Regions from separate parts of the Homo sapiens genome. Here regions 1 and 3 are each linked to region 2. The links come from fine-mapping of genetic effects on gene expression. A gene starts in region 2. Each other region holds a variant in brackets. All regions are shown on one strand. Distances are between the middles of the regions.

What was found. PIP is the estimated chance that this variant, and not a neighbour inherited with it, causes the effect.
Region 1: its variant is the best candidate, but not a certain one, in a credible set for the expression of HPSE2 in whole blood (TOPMed, PIP 0.61).
Region 3: its variant is the best candidate, but not a certain one, in a credible set for the expression of HPSE2 in lung (TOPMed, PIP 0.53).

Annotation. Positions count from the first base shown.
Region 1 is chr10:98,532,335-98,539,915 of GRCh38, reverse strand. All of the region lies in intron 9 of HPSE2 (heparanase 2 (inactive)), which reads left to right. Among named protein-coding and RNA genes, the nearest start is that of HPS1, 89 kb to the right of the region's middle. The variant A/G (reference allele first, on the strand shown) is at 4,677.
Region 2 is chr10:99,232,225-99,239,805 of GRCh38, reverse strand. HPSE2 (heparanase 2 (inactive)) reads left to right here and starts at 3,954. Exons shown (of 12, transcript NM_021828.5): 1 at 3,954-4,293; 2 at 7,301-7,458. The coding sequence starts at 4,004. RefSeq lists enhancers at 2,376-2,876, 2,877-3,377 and a silencer at 5,525-5,644.
Region 3 is chr10:99,009,391-99,016,971 of GRCh38, reverse strand. The region is part of intron 3 of HPSE2 (heparanase 2 (inactive)); the gene reads left to right. It also overlaps the pseudogene ARL5AP2. Among named protein-coding and RNA genes, the nearest start is that of MIR6507, 89 kb to the right of the region's middle. The variant T/C (reference allele first, on the strand shown) is at 4,292.

The DNA.
Region 1 (7,581 bases), 700 kb after region 2:
AAGACTGTTGAAGGGTGCAGGGCGAATAGCAGAAGACAGAAGGAGGAAAGGTGTGCCTAAGGTGGGGGTAAAATCAGGAATGAGTATGGAAGTTAAAAGAGAAGAATCAAAGTGCTTAGGGCAGAGTGCCAAGAAACTGCAAGAGGCAGAGGGGTGTGAGAAAGATAAGAAAAGAAAAGCAATCAGAGGGAGAGTGAAGAAAGATAGTATAGGCCAGAGACAACCAGGAACAAAAAAAAGAAGGAGATACAGAGAGGGTAAGAAAAAGGTAGATGAGAAAGTCCCTGAAGTAGAATGCAACCCACACTTTTCTGATAATCTGAGTAAAATGCTAAAAACAGGATCACACAGCTTTGTTAACATGCTTTTTTGTTTGTTTGTTTGTTTGTTTGTTTGAGACAGAGTCTCGCTCTGTCGCCCAGCCTGGAGTGCAATGGCGTGATCTGGGCTCACTGCAACCTCCGCCTCCCGGGTTCAAGCTATTCTCCTGCCTCAGCCTCTCAAGTAGTTGGGATTACAGGCATGCACCACCACGCCCGGCTAATGTTGTATTTTTAGTAGATACGGGGTTTCTCCATGTTGGTTAGGCTGGTCTCGAACTCCCAACCTCAGGTGATCCACCCGCCTCAGCCTCCCAAAGAGCTGGGATTACAGGCTTGAGCCACAGTGCCCAGCCTAACATGCTTTTTAAGGAAGGGTAAGTGTCATGCCTTGCAGTTACCAGACTGTTAAATATTGTGGGGCTGATTTGTTGATAAAATGGTTTGACAAGAGAGGACCAAAAACTGATTGCAACCTCTTTACCACTTTCCTGAGCCTAATATCAAGCAGTCATGTTTTGCCTTCCCCTATGTAATGGGTCAGTAATTCTGGAGAACAGTATTCTGATTTCTGTTTGGCGCTGCTAGGAGAGAACCAGCCTACGTTGCTGGCTACCTATGGACAATTTAGACAAGATGTGTCAAAGTACTTGACAATACACATGAATCCATTGGCTATGGCCCCATCAGTGTCTTCACTGTCCCCGCAAATGCGTATGCTTATGCCTCTGTTCACTTGTATCCCTGAAGGGCCTGCTCAAACTTTGCAATTCTTCCATTAAGCTAAACAAGCAGTTCTCTAGAGATGAATATATGTCCTTTATTTGGAAATGCTGATGCAAAATCAAAAGCCACATTAATTAAGTAGGATCTAGGTCAGTTGTTCTCAAGCTTGGCTACACATTTAGAATCATCTGGGGAGCTTTAAAAAAATCCAATTCCCAGGCAGCAAAAGCAGAGTTGGCAGGGAGTCAGGAGTAGGTCCCATTTATCAGTATTTTTTAAAGCTCCCCAGATGATTCCAGTGTACAGTAAGGTTGAGAACAACTGACCTAGGCCTTCTTAATGAGATATTCTGGGGACATTATATAGACATAGGGAATAAATAACTGCCTTGTTTGCTCTTAGCTGCTTCAAGAAACTAGTGTAAAATACCAATAAATACATTCCTAAATCTACTGGTAATATTAGGTAAACCTAGTTTCAGGAAGGTTCGAGATTGTCAGGACCCATAAAAAGATGAAGAAAGCCCAACAGAAAAGGAGACTATTATCTATTTGTCACTCACATGTAGGGTCCAGCCCAAGGGGCTTAGCGGGTGTTCTCCCCATGTGCGGAGACGAAAGATTGTAATAAATGAAGACACAAGACAAAGAGATAAAGAGAAAACAGCTGGGCCCGGGGGACCACTACCATCAAGACGCAGAGACCGGTAGTGGCCCCAAACAGCTGGGCTCGATGATATTTATTGCATACAAGACAAGGGGGCAGGGTAAGAAGGGTGAATCTTCTAAGTGATTGACAAGGTGAAGCAGGTCACATGATTACAGGATGGGGGGCCCTTCCCTTTTAGGTAGCCGAAGCAGAGGAGAAGGCAGCATACGTCAGTGTTTTCTTCTCTGCACTTATAAGAAAGATCAAAGACTTTAAGACTTTCACTATTTCTTCTACCGCTATCTACTATGAACTTCAAAGAGGAACCAGGAGTATGGGAGGAACATGAAAGTGGACAAGGAGCGTGACCACTGAAGCACAGCACCGCAGGGAGGGGTTTAGGCCTCCGGATGACTGCAGGCAGGCCTGGATAATATCCAGCCTTCCACAAGAAGCTGGTGGAGCAGAGTGTTCCCTGACTCCTCCAAGGAAAGGAGACTCCCTTTCGCGGTCTGCTAAGTAACGGGTGCCTTCCCAGACACTGGCGTTACCGCTTGACCAAGGAGCCCTCAAGCGGCCCTTATGCGGGCGTGACAGAAGGCTCACCTGTTGCCTTCTAGGTCACTTCTCACAATGCCCCTTCAGCACCTGACCCTATACCCGCCGGTTATTCCTAGGTTATATTAGTAATGCAACAAAGAGTAATATTAAAAGCTAATGATTAATAATGTTTATAATAATGATTGATAATTGTTCATGGTCATCTCTATATCTAATTTGTATTATGACTATTCTTATTCTAACTATTTTCTTTATTATACTGAAACAGTTTGTGCCTTCAGTCTCTTGCCTCAGCACCTAGGTAATCCTCCGCCCACACTCACAAATACATATGTCTTGACCATTTCTCTCTTCTGGCCTTCAGCTTTCTGCTGGACATAAACAACTGGATGTTTCACAGGCATGTTTATCTAAATGTAAGCTCAACATCTCCATTCCCCTACCTCTCCATTCCCTTGCCATAAGTTTGAATCTTCTCTAACGTCCTTATCTAAACAAATGGCATCACTGTCACACAATTGCCTGAGTTAGAAACTTAACTTACTCCTTCATCTTACTCCCCAAGTCTCCTTAACTTATTTTGGCCTCTCTTTCAATCCATTTTCTACACTGAGGCCAAAAATATTTTATAAAACACAGTGTATGTTAACACCTTCTTAAAACCCTTTAATTCACTGCCTCTGGAATAAAATTCAGATTCCTTAAAATGGGCCACAGAGACTTGCATGATTTGACCTTTACCCACATCTCCAACCCCATCTTGTGCCATCCTTCTTCTTGCGCTCTGTTCTCCAGCCAAACAGAACTTATTTTAGTCCCTTGAATGTGGTTTATTTGTTTTCCTCTGAGTAAACTCTCTTACATTCATGGCTGCAATCCCAGTGCCTACCACAGTCCCTGGTACAGAGTCAGCACCAGGAAGCATTTGTGGCATGTGTGTGCATGGGTGAGACAGTGAATATGTACTTAAAGCTTTAGACGTTCTCTTCCCTGGCAATGAGCTAATTCTCCAGCACGAATCTGTTGATTCAGAGCTATGAATCTTCTCCTGCCTTACCTGACTCTGTTTCCCTTGGCCTTAGATGGCAAACATGACTACACTTCCTGATGTTTCCCCACCAACTCTGGCCTTCCCCTTTTTTCCCTATCTCTTGTAATGAGATTCGTCTGCACTTCACTTTGCCTTCACAGTTCAGAAGGAAGGACCATCAGGATTCTTTGTTCACATTGAAGTGCTCTCTCTTTCCAGCATCACCTCAATGGTTTCCACCTGCCCTGCTTCATTAGCAGTTTTGTTTGGGTTCCCCACTAACCTAAAATAAAGCAATAAAGAAATAGTTGTGTCTGAAATGATCTTTCGAATAATAAACTGAGAATATCCTTTCAGCTCCACCATGACTCTGATTCTGATTCTCATTGAGCCTTTACTTTTGTAACAAGTGGGACTTTTCTGTTGTCCATTCCACCTGAAGCCCCAAAGCTGAGGTTGATGGGTATAAAGTGCCCATACATCTTAAAAAGAAGTTAGAGCTAACCTGTCCATGCAGGACTTCCTAAGGGGTAGCCCCAGACCAGCTCTGGACCCAAATGAGATGGGACCTATTGCCCATCTTTTGTCTGCATATAAGAGGGGGCTGTGAGGTTAATGAGGGAGAAGATTCTGTCTGTGTTTGAAGAGAGCTGTGTCAACTTGGCAGTAGGAACAGGAGGAAGGCTCTTCTTCTCCACTCCAAGCCCAGTGATAGGGTTCCTTGGCTCCAGAAACACTCTAGAGTATCAAAAGAGTTCTTGGGAAGCCTTGATATGTGCTGAAGTTTGGCAGGCACGGAGCCCAGTGCCTGGTTCTCATCTGGAAAGGTCTAATGAAGAGGCAGGCTGGAACTGTCCCTAACAGTTGAAAGAGGTGAGAGGGTGGTTGTATTATGAAATTATATCTCTACTAAGGGCAGAACAAAGATGCCTCTCTCTCCTGGGCTAGAGTAGTTACCACAACAGGTAACCAAGCTTTCAGTTATCTTTAAAGAATCATGTCCCAACAGAAAGAGACTGAGATATATATATCAATAGTATACGCTTAGAGGAGTTTCAAGTGGTCCACCAGAGTATACTGCCTGCCTAAGAAAACAGTATGACATGGGGGTTTCCAGCAGGAAAGCATTGGAAGAACCCACAAAAATGTCTGGCAAGAGAGGAGTCCATGATTTGGCATCACCCTCAGAGGGTGAACCAAAGCCATATTACACCACCACAGTCAATAAGTATGGTTGTCCCAATTATACCTTTCTTCTTTCCCTCTGCTCCTTCAGGAATTGGTAGGAAGAGAATTAAAAAAAAAACAAACAAAAATATGTAGCCTCTCCCCTCACTGCAGTTTTCTGATTTATGTCAAGCCTAAATTGTCCAAGATGTAAATCAAATTGG[A/G]TGAAAAACTAGTTTTTATATAAAATTGCCTGGACTTTTTAAAATCTGAAAATAAAATTGTTCATTATTATCTAAAAGCTAAGAAATCTGCTTTGAGAAGACGGACATTCACGGATAGGAAAGCAGGTTTCAAAGACAGTAGTAAAAATATAGTATGAAGTTGTTTTCTGTAGGTAACCCACAAAGTTGAATCATTTCACTTGCTCTCCTAAAATCTGAGAGGCGGGTGGAAGGGAAGGTTCTCCTTACACATGAAGTAAGCTTAGGAGGTAACATGCTAACTTTTTATCAAACATCTTAGAGCTTATATACCCAAATGAAGGAAGCTTTCTTCAAAAAAAGTCACTTCAGAAGGCTCTAGTTCTTTTATTGATGTTGCCTTTGCTGAAAATATCTGGAAATATCTCTTTAGGAATTGCTCTCCAAGTTTATAGCACATTCTTTGGTACCTTATCCATCACTAATCTTACCTGTTAGTGCTAAGCTGGATTTTTCAAAATAGACAAAAGTTATTTGATGCCAAAACTAATGAATAGGCTGGGTACGGTGGTTCATGCCTGTAATCCCAGCACTTTGGGAGGCTGAGGTGGGCAGATCACCTGAGGTCAGGAGTTCAAGACCAGCCTGGCCAACATGGTGAAACCCTGTCTCTACTAAAAATACAAAAATTAGTCGGGTGTGGTGGCACACGCCTATAATCTCAGCTACTTGGGAGGCTGAGGCTGGAGAATCGCTTGATCCCAAGAGGCGGAGGTTGCAGTGAGCAGAGATCACATCACTGCACTCCAGCCTGGGCGACAAGAGTGAAACTCTGCCTCAAAAAAAAAAATTAAAAATTCTAATGAATAAAGTGAATAATTAAACTGGGAAATTTCAGTTGGGGTGAAAAAAATCTCAGGTTATGACTATGAGGCAGATTTCTTCCATAACTTTTATTGGCTCAAAAGACAATTCCAATTTAAATATCCAAATGGTTATGAGTCATGGCAGTGTTATTTGAAGCACCAAGTGGGAAGGAACTTTAAGAATCAAATTGTCCTCCATTTCCTTGTAGGATAAAACAGATAGTAGTTGTCAGATCTTCAGAGCAGATGCCACCCATTCCTCCATATCATGGTTTTTGCCAGTTCTCATTGTGATGTCCTGGCATTTAAAAACTTATGTCTAACCCTATTTCTGTCACTTTTTAAACTGTAAATTTCTTATTGTCCTGAAAGGCTAAGTCATCTCCCAGCCTCCTTTTCTTAAGACAAAACAACAAGCACAGTTGTTGGATACCAACAAAAAGTCTGGTTAATTGCTCTCTGAGGACTGAGTGAAACTGTTTCACATCAGTAGAAAAAAATGAAAATGGTCATTTTGAAATTCAGATGACTATTAATGACCAACAAAATCAGCATGTTCTCCATCTGCATTTAAAGTCCCCATGAAAGGGTTCTCACGTTGGCTTTCATTGTTCTGTCCGATTTTCAAATTTCCAGAGTCTACCAAAGTCTGCCGGACAGCTTCCCAACTCCATCCATTACTTAGGGTGAGCAGTATTTACTGAGCTATCCCAGGCTTCATGCTTTGTTTCAGGAAATAGTCTTCCTCAGCTGACCCCATTGCTGGAGTGATCTAAGGTTTTCTTCTTTCTTGAATAGCAATCAGAACCACCTCTGAAAAAAATCAGACCCTAATTTCATCAAAGAGTTAACTGGTGTTTGGAACTATACAGGTCTATTCAATATAAAAAACATATGTTTAAAATTGACATTTGGACCAATTTTTGCATCCATTAGATCCCAGATTTAGAAGAATTGCATGTGATTAACGTTACGAAACATAAACACTGTGTTCCAATGACTCAAAAGAAAGCCAGGAAATTTTGTATTAAGGCATTATTCTATCTTCAAACTGTCCCATTGTGACTTCCATAAACACCTCCAAAAGCCTACCTTCTATAAAATTCTACTTTACGCTGTTTGAGCCTCAAATTATGGTGATGCTTCCTGACATTACAGCTGCTTCATTTGTAGTCCTCGCCATTGGCTGAAATCTTTGTTGCCCACACTGCCCTTGAATGCATCCAGCTTTGTAGCAGTCAAGGCCAAACTTCAGCTGGAAAGGGGTACCAGTTTGGATTCACAGACTCATAGAACATTGGCATTAGAAGGGATCTTAGAGATCATCCAGTCTCTACAACTGAGAAGATTGAGGCTCCAAGAAGACACATATCTAGTTCTAGTTCTTCAGTGAATATCAAAATAGAAAGGGATCAAAGTAAGCCCAGAGCATCTGTTAAAATGGAAATAGGCTCAGGCCCATGAAAGAGAAAGAATCAGGTCAGCCCTCATCCCTGAAAATCAGTAAGGCCAGAAGCAATAAAGGCCAAATAGACAAATAAAAGGAAGCTCTTCCAGGGTCTGCAGTCTATTCCCTGAATCCCAGAGAGAGAGAGAAGCTATTGTTCTGCCCTCTGAAAGGAAAGATGATAGAGGCTAAAAAAAGCTGATTATACCTGGAAGAATCTTTTGAAACCATCTTCTCCTACTCCTTTATTTTACAGAAAAGAAAGTGCAGCTCCAACAATTATTATTGGAGATTAATAGTGACACACTTGGACGAAAACTCTGTAACTTCAACTTCCAATCTGGTCTTCTTTACATTATGCTACAAGAGCTAATATTATTGAGTGTGTATTATGTATCAAGCACTATAATAATAATGCTTTACCCAAAATGTATTATTTAGTCCTCTCAGTAACCCCCTGAGGTAGGCATCTTTATCATCTTTGTTTTTTCAGATAAGTGAGGCAAAGGGTGCTTAAGGTATGGGCCCAAGATCACGAAGCAGAGGCAGAATTCAACCCAGGCTGGATTCAAGGGTCCATGAGTTTCCCATTCCCAACTCCCTTTATAGCAAT
Region 2 (7,581 bases):
TGGAAAGTAATAGAGATAAGTAGTTGACAGTTTTTATTAAGGTCCTTACTAGATAATATAAAAAGTTGACAAACGGGGCTGGGCGTGGTGGCTCATGCCTGTAATTCCATCACTTTGGGAGACTGAGGTGGGTGGATTGCCTGAGCTCAAGAGTTTGAGACCAGCCTAGGCAACACGGTGAAGCCCCGTCTCTACTAAAATACAAAAAATTAGCTGCGCGTGGCGATGTGCGCCTGTAGTCCCAGCTACTTGGGAGGCTGAGGCAGGAGAATTGCTTGAACCCCGGAGGTGGAGGTTGCAGTGAGCCGAGATCGTGCCACTGCACTCCAACCTGGGCGACAGAGCGAGACTCTGTCTCAAAAAAAAAAAAAAAAAAAAAAAAAAAAACCTTGACAAACATTATGTCCACTCCTCCCCATTAACTAATATTTATTTTGAAAAAACAAAGTCTAGAAATCACTGAATCAGTTAATCTTCACGTTTTCTTACAGTTCTGGGAACCTGGGCTCTTAGATATCAAAGCAATTTATCTATGAAGACCATTCAGTAGACACTAAGCAGAGCGTTTCCAAGGAGACATCAGTGCATCTAGTTCCTGAGAGTTCATATTTTATTTTTTAATTTTAATTTTACTTTTTATTTTTTTGAGACAGAGTCTTGCTCTTGTCACCCAGGCTGGAGTGCAATGGCTCCATCTTGGCTCACTGCAACCTCCTCCTCCCAGGTTCAAGCAATTCTTCTGTCTCAGCTTCCTGAGTAGCTGGGATTACAAGTGCCCACCACCATGCCCAGCTAATTTTTATATTTTTAGTAGAGACGGGGTTTCACCATGTTGCCAGGTTGGTCTCGAACTCCTTACCTCAGGTGATCCGCCTGCCTTGGCTCCCAAAGTGCTGGGATTACAGATGTGAGCCACTGTGCCTGGCCTGACAGTTCATATTTTATACAGAGGCCCAATACTTGTCTTCTAGGAAGTTACAATCTAAGACAAAACAGAGATGCAGATTGCTGTCACCTAGCACACAGAAGATAGGATAGAAACATCAATCTAATATACTGATTACTAATGAACTACTTACAGCATATTAATAGATAAGAGGCAAGACAAAAACCATGATATGGTATATGTGTGGCAGCTATTTGCAGAGTATCTCTGGAGATCTAAACCCAAACTAAACCAAAGCACCAAACAATCAAATCATCTTAGAGACCAACGAGGGCTAACCTCTTAAATATCAGTTATTTCTTTCCCCTGATGTCCTCTATAGAATGACTTAGAATTTCAATGGCTAGACTAGAGAAATGGTTTTCATCAGGAATTAAGAAAACAAGCACTTTGTTTTGTTGGTTTTGATTTTAATACCACATACAGATTCTGATGAAAACATTAAATACTACTTAGTTAGGCCAATAAACCATTATAGAGTAGTTAGGTCAGTAAGCAAAAATGGTGAAAATTCATAATTATGTGCATTCTCATTATACTCAAGTTCATTCTTGGTCACAAGAATAGGTATTTTTGAAAGGTATTAATTATAGACATCTAGTGGATATACGTATTCAAATTGTCTTCCATTGGTCCCAATTAACATGGCTTCTAAAAGTGCATTCACTTGTAAGCCAAGGGTATTTTAGGCCCTTGGAAAATCTGGCTCATTGTTAAAAATATATAATTTTAAAAATTCTTAGTATAGCAAATGAACTAATGGCTTTACACGTTAAGTATTTTTTGAAGGAGATGGCCAGGAAAATGTTAATAACTGGGAAAACAAATTATTGAACAGAGACCCAAAACATAATTTACTATGACAAATAAAAGTATTTATTTTTCACATTGTTCTGGAGAGGGGCATATTATTTCAGTGTGTTGAGCATGATTGGATTTACCATTAATTTACTTCACAGAATTTATTGAGTGCCTACTAAGTGCTCCAGTCTGGGAACACAAAGGCAAAAGTGTTTGCCCGCCAGGCTGTTGCCATCTCTAAGAGGTGCTCAATACATACTTAAAAATTACAAGAATTTCGACTGAAATTTATGTCACACCACACACCCATACACAGACACACACACACAGTTTAAAGGATCTAGATGTCTTAGAAATGTTCAGGAACTGAAGGAAACAGGCCTTAGGGCTGGAGCCAACATCCAATACTTCACTATGTAACAGCTTGATTTAAAAAAATCATCTTTAAATAATATGACTTGCATTTGCTTTCTCCCATATCCTCATCTTATGCAGTCCTATTTCTAGAAGGTCGTCATGGCGCTTCACAGATGAATGCAACATAATCTCGATTTCCTGGGTGCTTAGGTTGGTAGAGGCTTTTCAGGGAACTTCAGTTGAAGGTCATCTATTCCAGCTGTTTTCAGATTTGTTAATCCTGGTCTGGGTGGAGGTAAGAGGATACAGGTTGCTATTACAGCGTTTGCTGGGCTTTAAGACTAACCCTTGTCCATCCACTTCTGGGGAAAACCCTTGCTCTGCATTTTAGGGTTTTGCTTGTTTGATACCAAGGAGGGCCCTGGACGCTTCTGCGTTTCTGACTGCCCGCACTACATAAAGTAGTTCCCTTCATCTGCCAAGTAGAAGTCCCATTTTGTCTCAGAAAGAAGCCGAAAGTGGGGCCCAGCAATGTGACTGCAGCAAACTGTGCCTGATCCCTTTCCCGCGCTTCAGGATAGGACCTAGAGTTCAATTTGCAAGCTGTTGTGGGGTGGAAGCTCAATGAGCAGCGGCGGGTCGTGCATCACAGCGGCTTCCGGCTGTTATTCCCCATCCAGGGCTATGTGACTCTGGTTTTGACTGGGGGCCGAGATGGAAACCCGAAAGTGTCACTATGGTCCCATCTGGCACTGTAAAGGCGCACTTCCCTGCAGGAGGGCTAAGTATAGGATTGACCTCCAGGAGGGTCTGGAGGGGGGACTCTACCTGTGCAGCAGAATAGAGTGGCCAAGAAGTGGCACAGTTGGACGCAGAGCCGCCCTGACTATCCAAGCACAGCTCAGGTAGCTTCGACTTGGCCAAAGCCAGCATGTATTGACGCTCCCAAGACGCTTATTCCTCGGTTGCGGGAAGAGCAGAGCAGAGCGAGGGCGCATGTCCCTTTTGGCCCTCGGATCGGAAAAGCTGCTTGACCAGGTCACTATGTTTTTCCTTCTTGCTACTCTTTGCCCTATGGAGGTCAGAGGATGCTTCGGTGTGGCTATCCAACGCGTCACAGAGATCAGGGCTCCTCTTCGGGGAATGTCCTTCAGGGCTCTATGCTTTGACAGGAATCACCGCCTCAAGACCCCTCTGCAACTTAACCGCCCTTGGTATTGCTGCTTCAACCAGAAAAGGGCCCTGAGCGGACGAAGTGCCTGACGCTGTCAGGAGAAACAAGCGTGCTGTCGGTGGGAACTCTATCCCAGCGCGTCCCGGGTTGGCGCTGGGGCTTTCGGGTCGGAGTCGGAGCTTGAACCGCCCTCCAGAGCCTCTCAGGGAAGGACGTAAAAACGAGACCCTTTGCTCTGTACCCAGACGGTACAACGGCATGGTTTGGATTCCTCCCTCTGCTTCCTGACCCTAGAGGGTTAAATTAGGAGGGTACAACGCCACCCTTTTCTCCTCCTTCCCGCCTGCTCCCCTCCCCTTACCTTTAAAAAGTTAAAAAATGTCTGCAGTAGAAATCTCTTAAAGGGGCGGTGCCGGTGTACGAGTTCTCTTGGCAAGAGTCACGGGGAAGGCTGGCTAGGGGCGTGAGTTCGCTCCACCAGCACCAAAACACTGAAAAAAAAAATTAAAAAAAATTAAAAAAAAAAAAGAAAAAAACAAAACGAGCGAGCGAGCGAGCGAGAGAGAGAGAGAGCGGGAGAGAGAGAGAGTGTGTGTGTGTTGGGGGGGTGGTGGGAGGAAGGGAAAAAAAGGGGGGAAAAAGGCGGACAGACACACACTTTAGATAAGGACAATTAGTCACTAGCGAGACCCAGTAGGAAGAGAGGTTTAAATCAGAGGGATTGAATGAGGGTGCTTTGTGCCTTCCCTGAAGCCATGCCCTCCAGCAACTCCCGCCCCCCCGCGTGCCTAGCCCCGGGGGCTCTCTACTTGGCTCTGTTGCTCCATCTCTCCCTTTCCTCCCAGGCTGGAGACAGGAGACCCTTGCCTGTAGACAGAGCTGCAGGTTTGAAGGAAAAGACCCTGATTCTACTTGATGTGAGCACCAAGAACCCAGTCAGGACAGTCAATGAGAACTTCCTCTCTCTGCAGCTGGATCCGTCCATCATTCATGATGGCTGGCTCGATTTCCTAAGGTAAGGCAGGGGTTTCGATGGATCATTTAAAATTTTTTAGTAACACCCCCTCAAGCCCTTCCTATCCCCCATTCCAAAGGGGAAAGAAGAAAATAAGCCAAGCAGATCTCTCAAAGAGAAGAAAAGAGGTTTTCCTTCTCCTGGATTGTGTGCTGTGAGGCTGTAACTAGTGATTGAGAAAAGCAATGTTTTCTATTAAGATGCACATGTTTGCAATGCAGAAGGCATTTCAGAAACTTATCAGTTATGACTGAAAAAATGTTGTGCTTACATATATCCACAATTAGCCTTCCCGTCTACTTCTGAAAAAGAAACAAGAGGTTCAGAGCAGTTACAAAAGCGAAGAAAAGGTCTCAAACAACAAAGAGCTGAAAGGAATGGGTATGTGTGTGTGTGTGTGTGTGTGTGTGTATGTGAGACAGGAGAGTGTGTGTGTGTGAGTGTTCAAGCGGGATTGCACGAAACTGGAATTTTCCACGGAAAGATCGTTTCGTCAGTTCTCTCCCACTCTCAGAAAACGAATTTAAGCAGAGGCTTGAGTGGTGGGCAAGTTGGATCGGAGTTAAAATTTTTTATTTTATATCCTCCGCTGTCATTTCCAGACTTCAGGACTTTGTAAGGCGCTTTTTATAGACGGAATGCCCCCCTCCCCCCGCCAGTTCCTCCTCCTTAAATCTCCTGCGGTAACTGCACAGTTTAGCTTTTCTTTAAAGGAAAAAAAAAATCCTCGCTGGGGTCACAGCGTTATAAGGGAAGCGGTAAGAGTCCTAGAAATACTCCAGGGAGGCTTCGGAGATCTGAACTCCGCACCAGCAGATTAGCAAACCCGGAGGTTTGTGATCCCCTTTGCTCTAGGGCTTGTAATCTAATTGGGCTCACACTCTTCCCGGGTTGTTGCAGTTTGGCAGTTAGGCAACTGCGATCCCTTCCCATCAGGGACAGAGTTGCAGTGTAAAATAAGAAATAAATCCTCTGCAATGTCGAATCCAAGTGTTGAGTTTTTAAAAATTCCCTACAAGTTGGAGCCTCAGCTGTGGGTTCCCCTCGAAGAGCCCTCAGCGCTCTCAGTCCCACTTTGCCCCGAGGCCAGGTCCGTTGTGCGTCCTTCGTATTTTTCACTCCTTGCGAAATTCGAGTTTTGCTTCTTGAGGTGCGCCCGCCTCTCAGCTCTTGGGGTTGTCCCCCTGGCCCGGGTCGGGTCTGCGGACGCGGCAGGTAGCGGGAGGCGCCACGTGGAGCGCTCCTTCCACGTGGAGGAAAGGTAGCCGGAGGACTGAGAGGCTGTAGCTGCCCTTGCCGAGGCCGTTTCGGTTCCTGTTGGTGCGGTTGCCGCGAGGGCGGAACAGCCAGCTCCGCGCGGCCCAGCTTCCTCTTCGAAAGCTCTTTCGTGCAGCAGAGCGCGTCTATGAGCTCGTCCGAATGTAGGGTGCAACGGAGTTTTCCGCAACGCTTGTCCCACTTTCATTGAACTCCTTCAGCTGCGCAGACCCCCTTTCCCCCACCAGCTTTCTTTCTTTTTTTAAAAAATCTGCCTGTTCGCCTAATGCTTTCCTGCCTCAGAAAAGAGTCTGGAAGGCAGATTTTCGGGGAAGAAGTCCTGGCGGGGCGCATTCGCATTGGCTGTGCAGGCTTCTGGATGAAAGGTTGTTGGAACTGCCCTTTCCCCAGGACCGGATTCGCGCGGACGTCTCCTTTGCCACAGTAGGCCCACGCGACGCCCTGACTGTGCCTGTCCTGGAGTGCGGTCCCGGAGACTTCTGCCAAACGACCATTCTGGTTACAAGACCCTGGGGTAGCCACGTCTCTTCTCAAAAAACTCTCCAAAAGCAGAGTCTGTTTTTTCTTTCTCGTATCCACCTCCTTTATGATGCTCTTTAACGTCACCATGTGGATTTGGGTTTTCAGAATCTGAAACAGTAAAGCGTTAAAAAATAATTTACAGACCCGGAACTCAACAGCTGATCCCCTCTGCATTATCAGTATCTGCATTGCTCCTTTTCTACTCCTTCCCAAAGCAGCAGCCTTTGGCTTTTAAAAAACCTATTGATGGAAATCCTGACCTTAAATAGATGCAAATGCTATTGTTTTGTGCTCATTTAGTATCCCATAACGCGCAGGTTCCACATTTCGGCAAGCTTCATTTTCCCTAGCGGTTCCAAACGGCCCCAAGTGGGAAAGAAGAAAGATGGAGCCTAACTCGGGGGTGGGGTGGGGAGGAGGATGTTACCTTTCCTGAGATCAGGCGGAATTATTTCAGGGGCCAAAGAGACTTTGCCTTTACTGTGTGTGTGTGTGGTGGTGGTGGTGGTGGTGCGGGAGTGGAGAAGTGTTCTTGGAAAGGCGAGGGTTTACCCTGGGGATCTCTCCGTCCGGGGATTTGGGAAACAATGCAGTTTTTACAATATAGTGAAAAAGGAAAATCAACTCGGACATTAAAAGAAAGAAAGTAGGAATCCACTTAAGCTCAGGCGCCGGGCCTGGTCTGAGAGAAACAAGGCAGGTTTCACCTCCTGCACGGAGGTTTGTGGGGCCCCTGGGGCTGCGGAGGCAATGCCGGCTTTCAGCATACAAGTTTTTGGCAACGGTCGGAAGCCAGAGGTAGGCGCGCCTAGCGCGTCTCCGCCCGGAGCGCTTTCCTGGCAGTGGCAGAAGCCGGGCAACTGCGCTTTAGCGCCGTGCTCGTAGCACGTACACCCACCCCATACAAACACTCTATGAACAAACACTATCTGTAGCCTTTAGGAGATCAGGATCTGGGTGTCTGCGGGAGGGGGCCGCTGCGGGCGTCTGGAAGCGGGAGGCACAGCCCCCAGAGCCGGGCGGTGAGGGCGGGCTGGGGCGCAGGGCAGCGGCCAAGGGCCAGCGTGGACTGCCGGCTGGGGCAGGCACAGAGCCTCTAGCCCCGGCCAGGTCGCCCTCAGGGAGTAGGAAGAGGGCCCTTCTCCGTGCCCCACGCGCTCTCGTCCTGTCCTGGGAACCTTTCCTCTCTTATTCTCTTCCTCTGCAGCTCCAAGCGCTTGGTGACCCTGGCCCGGGGACTTTCGCCCGCCTTTCTGCGCTTCGGGGGCAAAAGGACCGACTTCCTGCAGTTCCAGAACCTGAGGAACCCGGCGAAAAGCCGCGGGGGCCCGGGCCCGGATTACTATCTCAAAAACTATGAGGATGGTGAGAAACTTGATTACCATTCTTTATTTGGGGAGCGGAAGCAAGCACCCGCTGTGTTTGTGTATCTGTGTGTTCGTGTGTCTGTGTGTTCGTGTGTGTGTGTGTGTGTGTGTGTGTGTGTGT
Region 3 (7,581 bases), 220 kb after region 2:
AAAGATGACATGATTCTATATCTAGAAATTTCCAGTCTCAGCCCAAAAGCTTCTTAAGAAGATAAACAACTTCAGCAAAGTCCCAGGATACAAAATAAATATGCAAAAATCACTAGCATTCCTACATCAATAACAGTCAAGCTGAGAGCCAAGTCAGGAATGAACTCACATTCGCAATTGCCACACACACACACACAAAATACCTAAGAATGCAGCTAACTAGGGAGGTAAAAATCTCTATAAGGAGAACTACAAACCACTGCTCAAAGAAATCAGAGATGACACAAACAAATGGAAAAAGATTCCATGCTCATGGATAGGAAGAATCAATATGGTTAAAATGGCCATATTGCCGAAAGCAATTTATAGATTCAGTGTTATGCCTATTAAACTACCATTGACATTGTTCACAGAACTAGAAAAAAAAACTATTTTAAAATTCATATGGAACCAAAAAAGAGCCTGAATACCCAAGGCAACCCTAAGCAGAAAGAACAAGGCTGAAGGACTACCTGACTTCAAACTATACCACAGGACTACAGTAACCAAAACATCATGGTACTGGTACAAAAACAGACACATAGACCAGTAGAACCAAATACAGAACTTGGAAATAAGACCACACACCTACAACTGTCTGATCTTCGACAAACCTGATAAAAATAAGCAATGGGGAAAGGATTCCCTATTCAATAAATGGTGCTGGGATAAATGACTAGCAATATGCAGAAGATTAAAACTGGAACCTTTCCTTATACCATATATAAAAATTAAGATGGATTAAAGGCTTAAATGCAACACTCAAAACTTTAAAATCCCTGGAAGGCAACCTAGACAATACAATTTGGGACATAGGCACAGGCAAAGATTTCATGATGAAGATGCCAAAAGCAATTGCAACTAAAGCAAAAATTGACAAATGGGATCTGATTAAACTAAAGAGCTTCTGCACAGCAAAAGAAACTATTAACAGAGTAAATAGCCTACAGAATGGTAGAACATTTTTGCAAACTATGCATCCAACAAAGGTCAACTATCCAGCATCTACAAGGAACTTAAGCAAATTTATAGGAAAAAAACAAGCCCATAAAAAAGTGGGCAAAGGAAGTGAACAGAAACTTTTTTTTTAGTTTTTATCTATTTATTTATTTTAATTATACTTTAAGTTTTAGGGTACATGTGCACAACGTGCAGGTTAGTTACATATGTATACATGTGCCATGTTGGTGTGCTGCACCCATTAACTCGTCCTTTAACATTAGGTATATCTCCTAATGCTATCCCTCCCCTCTCCCCCCACCCCACAACAGGCCCCGGTGTTTGATGTTCCCCTTCCTGTGTCCATGTGTTCTCATTGTTCAATTCCCACCTATGAGTGAGAACATGCAGTGTTTGGTTTTTTGTCCTTGTGATAGTTTGCTGAGAATGATGGTTTCCAGCTTCATCCATGTCCCTACAAAGGACACGAACTCATTATTTTTTATGGCTGCATAGTATTCCATGGTGTATATGTGCCACATTTTCTTAATCCAGTCTATCATTGTTGGACATTTGGTTTCGTTCCAAGTCTTTTCTGTTGTGAATAGTGCCACAATAAACATACGTGTGCATGTGTCTTTATAGCAGCATGATTTATAATCCTTTGGATATATACCCAGTAATGGGATGGCTGGGTCAAATGGTATTTCTAGTTCTAGATCCCTGAGGAATCGCCACACTGACTTCCACAATGGTTGAACTAGTTGACAGTCCCACCAACAGTGTAAAAGTGTTCCTATTTCTCCACATCCTCTCCAGCACCTGTTGTTTCCTGACTTTTTAATGATTGCCATTCTAACTGGTGTGAGATGGTATCTCATTGTGGTTTTGATTTGCATTTCTCTGATGGCCAGTGATGATGAGCCTTTTTTCATGTGTCTTTTGGCTGCATAAATGTCTTCTTTTGAGAAGCATCTGTTCATATCCTTCGCCCACTTTTTGATGGGGTTGTTTTTTTCTTGTAAATTTGTTTGAGTTCATTGTAGATTCTGGATATTAGCCCTTTGTCAGATGAGTAGATTGCAAAAATTTTCTCCCATTCTGTAGGTTGGCTGTTCGCTCTGATGGTAGTTTCTTTTGCTGTGCAGAAGCTCTTGAGTTTAATTAGATCCCATTTGTCAATTTTGTCTTTTGTTGCCATTGCTTTTGGTGTTTTAGACATGAAGTCCTTGCCCATGTTTAAAAGAAGACATACATGCAACCGACAGTCGTGAAGAAAAGCTCAACATCACCAATCACTAGAGAAACGCATATCAAAACCACGAGATACCATCTCACACCAGTTAGAATGACGATTATTAAAAAGTCAAAAAATAACATATGCTGGTGAGGTTGTGGAGAAAACGGAACACTTATACACTGTTTGTGGGGGTGTAAATAGTTCAACCATTGTGAAAAACAGTGTGGCGATTCCTCAGAGACCTAAAGACAGAAATACCTTTCAACCCAGCAATCCCATTACTGAGTATATACCCAAAGGAATACAAAGCATTCTATTATGAAGACACATGCATGCACATGTTCATTGCAACACTATTCACAATAGCAAAGACATGGAATCAACCTAAGTGGCCATGAATGATACACTGGATAAAGAAAACATCATACATATACACCATGGAATGCAGCCATAAAAAGAATGAGATCATGTCCTTTGCAGGGACATGGATGGAGCTGGAGGCCATTATCCTTAGCAAACTAACACATGAATGGGGAGGACGGTGGCTTGCGAGGCTCGTTGCAGACAACTTGGTGGCAATGTCCACGAGCCAGGTGAGTGTGTGGCAGTAGCAGGGACTCGCGTGTGGCAGGGTGACCTGGGTTTTGGCCTCCCTCTGGTTCTCTGGAAGTGGGCCAGCAACCAGGGCGGGAGCAGCTGCAGAGGCAGAGGCTCCAGTGTGTCTCTCTCTGCCACCCCCTTAGCCTGAGCCAGGGAGGCCAGGCGGTCTGGGTGTCTGGAGGCAGGGTCCACTGCCCGAGAATGGGAATTCTCTTCACCAGGATATGGAGACTGTTCAATCACCAGGAGCACAAAAGTATCATTATTGGGCTGGATAGTGCAGGGAAAACTACCATCCTTTAACAGTTTTCTGTGAATGAAGTTGTACATACATCTCCTACAATAGGAAGTAATGTAAAAGAGATAGTGATTAATAATACATGTTTCCAGCTGGTAGCTCACGCCTGTAATCCCAGCGCTTTGGGAGGCTGAGGTGGGTGGATCACCTGAGGTCAGGAGTTTGAGACCAGCCCAGCCAACATGGTGAAGGCCCGTCTCTACTAAAAATACAAAAATTAGGTGGGCATGGTGGCACGCACCTGTAATACCAGCTACTCGGGAGGCTGAGACAGGAGAATTGCTTGAACCTGGGAGGCGGAGGTTGCAGTGAGCTGTGATCGTGCCAGTACACTCCAGCCTGGGTGACAAAGCAAGACTGTATCTCAAATAATAATAATAATCATAATCATAATAATATACATTTCCTAATGGAGGATATTGGTGGCCAAGAATCTCTTCGTTCTTCCTGAAACACTTACTATACTAACACAGAGTCTGTATAGTTGCTGTGAACAGTACAGACAGAGAGAGGATTTCTGTAACTAGAGAACTCTATAAAATGTTAGCACATGAGGACCTAAGAAAAGCTGGGTTACTGATTTTTGCTAATAAACAAGATGTTAAAAAATGCATAACTGTAGCAGAAATCTCCCAGTTTGTGAAGCTAACATCTATTAAAGATCACCAGTGGCATATCCAGGCATGCTGTTCTCTAACTGGTGAGGGATTGTGCCAAGGACTTGAATGGTTAATGTCACGACTTAAGATTAGATTATCTCTACTGACCTCTTCTCATAGACTTTGTATAAATGAAGTGCTAAACTTTACCTGAAAGCTGCAGCAATTAAAGATTTAGATATATTTATAATCAACTGATTTAAACTTTTTCTATGAGAAGAAAAAGTAAGACCACTTATTTGAAAACAAAGATGAAGTCTCACCTTCCAATCTGCTTTCTCATTAGTTTTTTCCAAAGTAAGTTATTAAAGCTGTGAATCACATTTTTCTCATAATGAATCCTCTCAGGACATTGTGTAGCCCCTGGTAAGTACAAAGGGAGAGGAAGACATTTTGAATTTTGAGAGCTTTATTATCAGTATAACCCTCCCTAGTTGAGTGTTATTCTCTTCTTGGTCCGTTAAGTCAAAATACAAATCAGCACAGATATTCAGTTTCCAGTATTTTAAAATATGT[T/C]ACATATGGGAAGTATTTTGCATAAGGTTGTATATGTATTGTGTATATACCTCAAGTTCAAGTTAATGGCTTTGATTTAAGTTCTAAAGAAAAGCAAATAACACAAATATTAATAATATCCTTAGGTATAACCATAATGAGATAAGTACTGGCATTGGTGTTAGGTGCCATTTTATACTTTCTCCCTATATTCTCTGTATTGTATTAACCAACCCTCCAAATCATTGAGCTGCTTGTTAAAAAAAAAAAGGAAAAGGAAAAAGCATGATATTGTGTATCTATTTTTTGTTGTTGACCAATCACACAGATGGAAACATAATTCAACAGAATGTGATAGCGATCAGATTCTTGGCTTAGTATTACTAATGGGCAGGATTGTACAATGAGTAATTATCAGATTATTACTTTCAATGGTTCTTATGGCATCTAAATTACTGAATAAATTTTTAATCCATTAATCAGTCTATCATAAATTGTGATTAAAATTATCAAATGAATTATCTGCATTAATTGGAAACTGTTGTGTGAAACATGTCTACTCAGAGAAATAATATTCTATAAATATTATAAAATAATTTAGCTATATTATTTTTAAGTATTAAATTATATGTCAAGCAGTTAAAGTGAATTTCAAAGTAAAAGTAAGGTATGTTTTCTGAACAACATTGATAATTCTTTAATTTGCAAAGTTCTTTTTTATTTTAGGACTGAGAATATAGTGTGAGATTTTTTATTTATGTAAAATTTGTTGTATCTTCTGTAATATAAATACATTGTTTGAGAATTATAAAATGCAAGCATTTTTGAATGCTTTTAAGAATTTCTTTTAAAGATTGATTGATACAATGTATTATTTGTACAAAGAAGTAACTTGACCCAAAATACTCTTTATGCTTGCTTAGAGCATTTTTTTTTTTTTTTTTTTTGAGATGGAGTCTTGCTCTGTCGCCAGGCTGGAGTGCAGTGGCATGATGTCAGCTCACTGCAACCCCTGCCTCTTGGGTTCAAGCAATTCTCCTGCCTCAGTCTCCCGAGTAGCTGGGACTACCAGCACATGCCACCATGCCTGGCTAATTTTTGTATTTTTAGTAGAGATGGGGTTTCACGACGTTGGCTAGGATGGTCTCTATCTCTTGACGTCGTGATCTGCCTGCCTCAGCCTCCCAAAGTGCTGGGATTACAGGCTTGAGCCACCACGCCCAGCCTGTATATCTTTCATGGCTTGAAAATCTGAAGGTTAATCCAAACTGATACGTTTTAGCATATTTAAGAAAAAAAAACTAAATTTCAGCCTTTTAAATTTCAAGAAGATTTTATTGAATAATAGTACATACTATAAGTATTGATCCAACTTTGAAAGTTCCTTTCTGTAAAATGTGAAATACTCAATATCTAAATCTAGATCAGGCATAGGAGATCAGTATTTAACATTGGATGTTTTGTGTTTCATATTTATAATGTTCAAAATGCAAGCATAACATTTAATATTTGTCTACATGGTTTTACAAAAGTAAATCCTAAATTACCACCCCACCAAAAAAAAACCTAACACAGGAACAGAAAACTAAATACCACATGTTCTCATTTACAAATGGGAACTAAATGATGAGAACACATGGACACATAGAGAGGAACACAACACACATTGGGGCCTACAGAGGGGTTGAAGGGTGGGAGGAGGGAGAGGATCAGGAAATATAACTGATGGGTACTAGGTTTAATACCTGGGTGATGAAATAATCTGTACAGCAAACCCCCATGACACAAGTTTAAATATGTGACAAACCTGCACATGTACCCCTGAACTTAACAGTTAAAAAAAAAGACTGATGATTACCGACTTGTCAGTGTTCTGAAATTGTGCAATTAATATTCATCCTCAAGAGAATTTTGTGTCTATTCTCGAGTATTTGACTAATATTTTATTGATTCTTGGCTGGTAAGGGCTAGGATGGGAAAGGAATCCTAGATTCTTAGAGTTAGATGGCTTCTCAGAGGTTATCTGAGCTAATCTACTACCTTGATTTCCCTTTTCAGTAAAGCTGCCAAATTGTTAACCAGGTTTTGCTTAAGCACTTCCAGAATAGGTTGGCCTCTCATACCATGAAGTTGCCCAGTCATCTTTGAATTTACTTAAGAAGTTATGCCTCTAAAAACAAGTTCTTATCTTTATCTATATACTGCCTCTCTTAAAATTTCTGCCCATTTATGGTAATTCTGATCTCTGGAATCAATAGGAGTCAAGTAAATCCCTCTTTCACAAGGCTGCAATTCATGAGCCTGCTTTTTCCCAAGCTCAGGAAAGTATATCATTAACATTATTATTGCTTCTAGGCAAAGGTGAAGATTCTCAAACAGGCTGATTTCATGGTCATTTTTCCCCAAGTATGTTTTATTTACCTTTTATAATGTTTTATGCTAAAGGATTTTCAAAGATAAAAAAATAGAAAATAAACACATTTAATTTACTTCAGGTCTTTTGGCTTTCCAAAACAATGATTGCTACAAGTTTCATTTGATGTCCTCTTTAAGCACAGTAAATCATCTCATTCCTTAAAGAATCTCACTGAGTTTTAGATTATTGGTTTATTGGAGAACAGCTGTGGTCACAACAGAGCGGATTCTAAGGGTCTGCTGTTAGGAATTAAACTAGCTAATTGTTCCCAAACAATGGTCTGTAAATGAATTTCAGTCTATGAAGCTTTTAGCAACTTGGGACAAAATAAGAACCAAGTGACAAGTTTTTATGAAACTAAATTTATTTAATTTTTAAGTTCCAAGTTTATGTCCTTCCTACGTTTTTGTTATTGAAGTTATGAAATGATGTTGATAATTAATGGTAGTTGCTATTTTAAATGTCTTTGTTTTGCAAAAGCAAATGACTATGAAAAAAATGAGCAACTCTATTTTGGTGCCCTGATATTTTTCTTTTTGAAATATTACTGGTCCTGAAATCCCTAAGTATGTGAATCACTGGCTTAGATGCTGTTTGTCTCCTCCCAGGGTTAACATTTCTATAGTCTATGAATTGTGGTTTAATCAGACTTGGACATGAAACCCCTATGGAAACCAGGTGCTACAGGAACTGAAGTTTGGAATTCTACAAGAAACTGGCTGCCTTTTCCCTCTGGTCCACTGTTGAATCAGTACTTCCAGATGGTGGCAAGGAAATGTGGCTGCCAGTAGTAACCCGGCTCTGGAGGGAGACTGAATGCTATCCCTGATGTTCAGTCCTGCTTTTTGTTTGTTTGTTTGTTTTTTGAGACTGGATCTCAGTCTGTCATCCAGGC